Regions from separate parts of the Homo sapiens genome. Here region 2 is reported to be linked to region 1. The links are microRNA targets in miRTarBase. Many come from high-throughput screens and were not tested one by one. Region 1 holds a microRNA gene; the other region holds the end of a gene's coding sequence.
What was found. The annotated mature microRNA hsa-miR-149-3p reads AGGGAGGGACGGGGGCUGUGC and lies in region 1 at 1,454-1,474, shown strand. An mRNA with a match to its seed (bases 2 to 7 or 8) in the 3' UTR can be bound and repressed. Matches are read on the target gene's strand: a 7mer-m8 pairs with bases 2 to 8, a 7mer-A1 pairs with bases 2 to 7 and ends in A, and an 8mer does both.

Region 2: miRTarBase lists ARPC3 as a target of hsa-miR-149-3p. The part of its 3' UTR that is shown has no 7-base or 8-base seed match.

Annotation. Positions count from the first base shown.
Region 1 is chr2:240,454,603-240,457,749 of GRCh38, forward strand. It overlaps MIR149 (microRNA 149), which reads left to right and starts at 1,399; the gene lies at 1,399-1,487. The region is part of intron 1 of GPC1 (glypican 1); the gene reads left to right. GPC1-AS1 (GPC1 antisense RNA 1) reads right to left here and starts at 2,098. Exons shown (of 3, transcript NR_161169.1): 1 at 1,995-2,098. RefSeq lists an enhancer at 699-1,349.
Region 2 is chr12:110,432,332-110,435,331 of GRCh38, forward strand. ARPC3 (actin related protein 2/3 complex subunit 3) reads right to left here. Exons shown (of 7, transcript NM_001278556.2): 7 at 2,492-2,886. The coding sequence ends at 2,824. Among named protein-coding and RNA genes, the nearest start is that of ARPC3, 17 kb to the right of the region's middle.

The sequences.
Region 1 (3,147 bases):
ACACAGCCCTACTCCAGCACCGTGGGAGGCAATGCAGGCTGACTGTCCACGCCAAATTCCGGTACCTTAGGCATTCGAGTCTGTTGACACTGAGTGTCTAGGACGAGGCTGTAAAGGTGGATAAAGCCGGCTTTACAGTCTGCACCTCCTGTGTGAGCCGTGGAAGCTTCTGGAGGGATGGGCGTGGCGTGGCGCCATCATCTCTCTGCATTCTCCTTGGGAGGGCTCCAGAGCCACTGGTCACGGGCAGCTGCCAGGCTGGGTCTGGACAAATGAGGTCTGGGTCCATCATTGGGGATGGGGGCCACTGTCAGGATGGGAGTCTCGCCTAAAGCTTTGGGGTGAAGGTGCTGATGACCAAGAGGAAACTGCGGGGTGGGGACATGTCAGCAGGGGACGAGAATGCATGACCTAAAAGGTATCCAAAGTTAAGGCTGGTGGGGGCTTAGTGAGGAGCAGCAGAGTGGGGTGGTCCAGAACCGTCAGGATCGGGAGGGGGAAGATGGAACGAGACAGCAGCTGCCTACGAGCCAGGGAGCAAGAGCTCTGTGCTTTAACCTGAGGAGCAGGAGCCTGGGAACTGGAGACTCTGGGTTTGAGGTGGGGGATGAATCTGCCATTAAACAAATAATCCCCTTCCCCCCCAAAAAAATCCTCAGAGCACTGGGGAAGGGAAGTGTCCCAGTGACTGAGGGAGGGGAGCGCTGTGGAAGGATGGGTCGGCTACAGCAACTTCAGCCCAGGGATCAGGGAAGAGAGGGTCCAGTCCCTGGCCCAGCGGGGAGCAGGCCCGGTGACCTTGACCTGAGCAGCCCCAGGGCCAGAGGGAGGGGTGGGCCGGAAGGGCCCAGATGCCTCCCTGCACGGGGGGAAGGGGATGGGCTGCCGGGACTCACCCCCTAGGTTGGAAAATGCCTCCCTCTGGGTTGGAGGAGGAGAAAGGCCAGGAAGGAGAGGGAGAGGGACATGGGGAGGGTTCCCTCCTGGCCTGAGGCCTCTCTATCCCCAGGTGTTGAGCTGAGAGAAGTGGTGGGGAGGCCCCTGGGGGTGGGGAGGCCCCTGGGTGGGGAGATTTAAGATGACAGCTGGTCTTGGGCACATTGCTCTCCATTCAGAAAGGCCCCAGCCCCTGGCATTCTTCCAGGAGGGGGCTTGCTTTGCCGCCCTGCAGGGGGACTCTGCAGAGCCGGCCTCTGCCATCTCATGTCCAGGACCACAACCTGTGGCCCCGGCCTGCGCCGGGCCGGAGCTCCGCAGAAGGAAGCCAGCGGGAGGCCTCCTGCCTTTGACTGCCGTGCGTCCAGCCTGCAGCGGGCCTCAGGGGGCCGCCTCGATCCAGCCTGCCCGAGGCTCCCAGGCCTTCGCCCGCCTTGCGTCCAGCCTGCCGGGGGCTCCCAGGCCGGCGCCCGAGCTCTGGCTCCGTGTCTTCACTCCCGTGCTTGTCCGAGGAGGGAGGGAGGGACGGGGGCTGTGCTGGGGCAGCTGGAACAACGCAGGTCGCCGGGCCGGCTGGGCGAGTTGGCCGGGCGGGGCTGAGGGGTCGGCGGGGGAGGCTGAGGCGCGGGGGCCGGTGCGCGGCCGTGAGGGGGTGTGAGAGGTGGCTGACGGCGCCGAGGAGCCCCTCAGAACCTGCAGGTGGGGGGAGCTCCCATATCTTACGGGTGTTTCGGGCCTCACCTCTCCATGCCTCTCGTCAGCCTCTCCCGTCTGCGTGGTGGGGGCTGGGGAGTGGGTCCGCCGGGACCTCGCGAGGGAGGGGCACAGGAGGAGCCGGCGGGGGACGCCACCCACCCTCCTCCCTAGGAGTGCTTGAGCCCTAGTCCTGAGTCTTGGACCAGCTCACTCGGTTCCTGTGGCCCAGCCAGCCTGGCCTGGGTGCCCCGTCACAGCTGAGCCCATCTCAGCTGAGCCCAGGGTGTGTCACCGGGAAGCTCAGCTGGCACCTGCCACCCCCTCCCCCAGGCACGTTTCCCTCCCACTGCCCAGCCCATTACCATCATGTGTCCGGCTGACCTGTGCTCTCCTGGTCTGGGCAGCCTGGATGGGTGCACAGGGCCCCATCACAGCCCACACCCTCGGAGAGACGCCTCCTGAGTCTGCTCAGCCTGGCACAGGCCCCAGGAAAGGACCCGGAGGGGCGGTTCCTGCTCTAAATCCTGCCCCCACGGGGGTGGGACTGGGGCAGAATCCCATCAGTGAATAAAGGCTGCAGAGTGAAGGATGGTCCCTGGCGAGTGTACCTGTGTCCCAGTCTTCTTGCCTGAGGGCGCCTTCCCACCCATGTGAGGAGTGGGGAAGGAGCACCCCTTCTCTACTAGGCCCCAGGGCTCTCAGAGCCGGGCTCTGTCCTCACCCCAGCTGGCTCCCACAAGGCCCTCCTGGCCCCAGACTCTGTTGGACCCCCAACTCCCCCTCCAGCAGGCATCTGGAGGTAAGGAGGGGCGGGGGGCGCAGGTGCACTTGCCATTCCCGCTCTGTCTGCAGCATGGGCACATGTAAGTCCAGGCCCTGGGGAATCCCTGGACCTGCAGCCCCTGCGGAGGACTCCCTCCCCCTCTAGCTCAAGCCAGAGCCCCCTGCATCAGTACATTCCAGAACTCAGACAGGAAAAGAGGGCAAGGAGGGAGCGCTCCAGGATAAGAACCCCTACCTCGGCCCTCCCTCGCTCTCCCAGGCCCCTCTGACAACCTGTCTCCTTGCTGTCATGTCAGCAGGCACAGAGGCTACAGGGGCCAAGCGGCAGCCGCCCAAGCCCGGATTCGGGTTCTCTGTTCCCTTCTCTTGTCTCGGGCTCCTCCCTGAGTGTGTGTACTTAGAGGGTGCGGAAGATCAGCAAACTCAGTCTGACCCAGGCATTCAACCTCTGGGTAGTTACCTAGTCCTGGGTCCCCACCCCAGATGGCCTCTAGTGGGTAAGGGCTTCCTGGACCCCAGGCCTGAGGGGTGACTTCTCTTGCAGTAAGCGGGTAGGGCACTGCCTGCGCTGCTCCAGGCCCTGCCTGCAGTGGGGCTACAGATCCCTGCTCCCACCTCCAGGCAGGGCTGGAGCTGCTGCCAGCTCCCCCAGGACAGCCTCGAGCCAGGTGCCTCTGCCCGGGCTGACCCCGCCCTCGGTCCCGGTCCTGGCTCCCTCTCCTGCCTCTCCTC
Region 2 (3,000 bases), not on the chromosome of region 1:
CCTGGCCAACGTGGTGATATGTTTAAAATAAAATTTTTTTTTCTTTTTTGAGACAGGGTCTCAACTCTGTCGCCCAGGCTGGAGTGCAGTGGTGCGATCATGGCTCATAGCAGCCTCGACCTCTAGCCACCAGGCCTGGCCCCAAACCTGTAATCTTGAAATGAATCAGGGTGGCTTTCTCTCCTTTCTGACATGTCTGTAACCCCTGTGGCAGAAGTTCCAACCCAAACACCAAAACTCTGATTCTGGGTTAAGAATTTTAATTTAGGACAGGTGCAGTGGCTCATGCCTGTAATCCCAGTGTTTGGGAGGCTGAGGTGGGTGGATCACTTGAGTCCAGGAGTTTGAGACCAGCCTGGACAACACAGCAAAACCTTGTCTTGCTGGGCGCTGTGACTCACACCTGTAATCCCAGGACTTTAAGAGGCCGAGGTGGATGGATCACTTGAGGTCAGGAGTTTGAGACCAGCCTGGCCAATATGGTGAAGCCCCGTCTCTACTAAAAATACAAAATTAGCCAGGCGTGGTGGCACAAGCCTGTAATCCCAGTTACTCAGGAGGCTGAGGCAGGAGAATAGCTTGAACCTGGAAGGCAGAGGTTCCAGTGAGCCAAGATTGCACCACTGCACTCCAGCCTGGGAGACAGAGAGAGACTCAGTCTCAAAAAAAAAAAAAAAAAGCAAAAAACAAACCAAACCAAAACAAAAAACACAAAAAAACATGATACCCCATCTCTACCAAAAATACAAAATTAGCTGGGCCTGGAGATGTGTGCCTGTAGTCCCAGCTACTGGGGAGGCTAAGGCGAGAAGATTGTTTGAGCCCAAGAGGTCGAGGCTGCAGTGGGCCGTGTTCATGCCACTGCACTCCAGCCTGGGCAACAGTGATACCCTGTTTCAAAAACAAACAAACAAACAAATTTTAATTAAACAAACAAAACCCCCCACGACACACCACCACCACTCTTTTGGCTTCAGGACTGTCCTTCTGTTTATCTATGGAGTAGGTTTTCACATATCCATTCCTTTTGCTGTGTGAACTGTGGTATTTAGCTAGCTTGTAATTCAAGTCTTTAAACAGATGCTCAAGAGCATTTAACCCACATATTAAAATCATATATTCACCCGTAAAAACAAAATGCAAATACTCTAATCATTCAAGTACTACCATAAACTCTAGGTTTTTTTTTTTTTTTTTGGAGATGGAGTCTCACTCTCTTGCCCAGGCTGGAGTGCAGTGGTGCAATCTCCACTCACTGCAAGCTCCGCCTCCCAGGTTCACGCCATTCCCCTTCCACAGCCTCCTGAGTAGCTGGCACTACAGGCGCTCGCCACCACGCCTGGCTAATTTTTTGTATTTTTTTAGTAGAGACGGAGGTTTCACTGTGTTAGCCAGGATGGTCTCGATTCTCCTGACCTTATGATCCGCCCGCCTTGGCCTCCCAAAGTGTTGGGATTACAGGCGTGAGCTACCGCGTCTGGCCGTTTTTTTTTTTTGAGACGAAGTTTCACTCGTTGCCCAGGCTGGAGTGTAATGGCGCGATCTCAGCCTACCGCAACCTTCGGCTCACCGTAACCTCTGCCTCCCAGGTTTAAGCGATTCTCCTGCCTCAGCCTCCCGAGTAGCTGGGATTACAGGCATGCGCCACCACGCCCAGCTGAGTTTTTTTTTTTTTTTTTTTTTTTTTTGAGATGGAGTTTCGCTCTTGTTGCCCAAGCTGGAGTGCAATGGTGCGATCTCGGCTCACTGCAACCTCTGCCTCTCAGGTTCAAGCGATTCTTCTGTGTCAGCCTCCCGAATAGCTGGGATTACGGGCGCGTGCCACCATGCCCGGCTAATTTTTGTATTTTTAGTAGAGACATTGTTTCATCATATTGGTCAGGCTGGTCTCAAACTCCTGACCTCAGGTGAGCCGCCTGCCTGGGCCTCCCAAATTGCTGGGATTACAGGCGTGAGCCATCGCACCCGGCCCGGCTGGTTTTTGTATTTTTAGTAGAGACCAGGTTTCTCCGTGTTAGTCAGGCTAGTCTCAAACTCCCGACCTCAGGTGATCTGCCCGCCTGGGCCTCCCAAAGTGCTGGGATTACAGGCGTGATCCACTGCGCCTGGCCATATTAGTATATTTTATTTCATACATATACACAGAGAGAAAAAAAAGAAAAAGAGAAAAGAAAGCACTGATATATGCTCTAACATGGATGAATTAGAAAACATTAAGTCAAAGAAGCTAGACATAAAAGGCCACATGTTGTATAAAAAATTCAATTTACATGAATTATCCAGAATAAGCAAATCCATAGAGACAGAAAGTAGATTAATACTGGGAGGAGGGGTGGGAGGGACAGGGGGCTTGGGGAGGAATGTGGGGTGGGGTGGCTGCTAAAGAGTGCAGGTTCACTACACCGGGGTGATGAAAATGCTCTGGATTTACTGGGGATGGTTGTAAAACTTCATGTATATACTAAAAAAAGTGAATTGTACACTTTAAAAGGGCATTATGGAATGTGAATTTTATCTCAAAACAAATTGTAAGTGAATGTCAAAGACTGGCAATAAAGTTTTTCTGACATGGAATGTTAGAAATTTCTTTATTATTACTTATTCTTATTAAGCGCCAGCTTTAATGCTGCAGAAAATTTCAAATCACCCTTGATAACCCACTTTCTTTTCTCCCACCCAAATTCTTGATCAAGAGTTTTTCAAGTAAAGACATGCTCTTCTCTCTTCTGTATAAAACTTTACGAAATAAAGGCAAAAGATTGTGTACATCTTGCTGGAAAATGCTGCCCAGGGCTCTGGAGACGGTGGCTGCCCGGGCTCCCTTCACTGTCCAGGTCCTGAAAGACTCTTGTTCATGAACTGTCTCTTCACAAAGCAAGTCCACCACTAACAAGAGAGAACAACACAGAATGAACAGCGGGGTCAAATTACAATAGAATTTGCATTTATTTAATAATAAAATTTCACATTAGTCTGGAATCTCTTATAAACTTTTTTTTT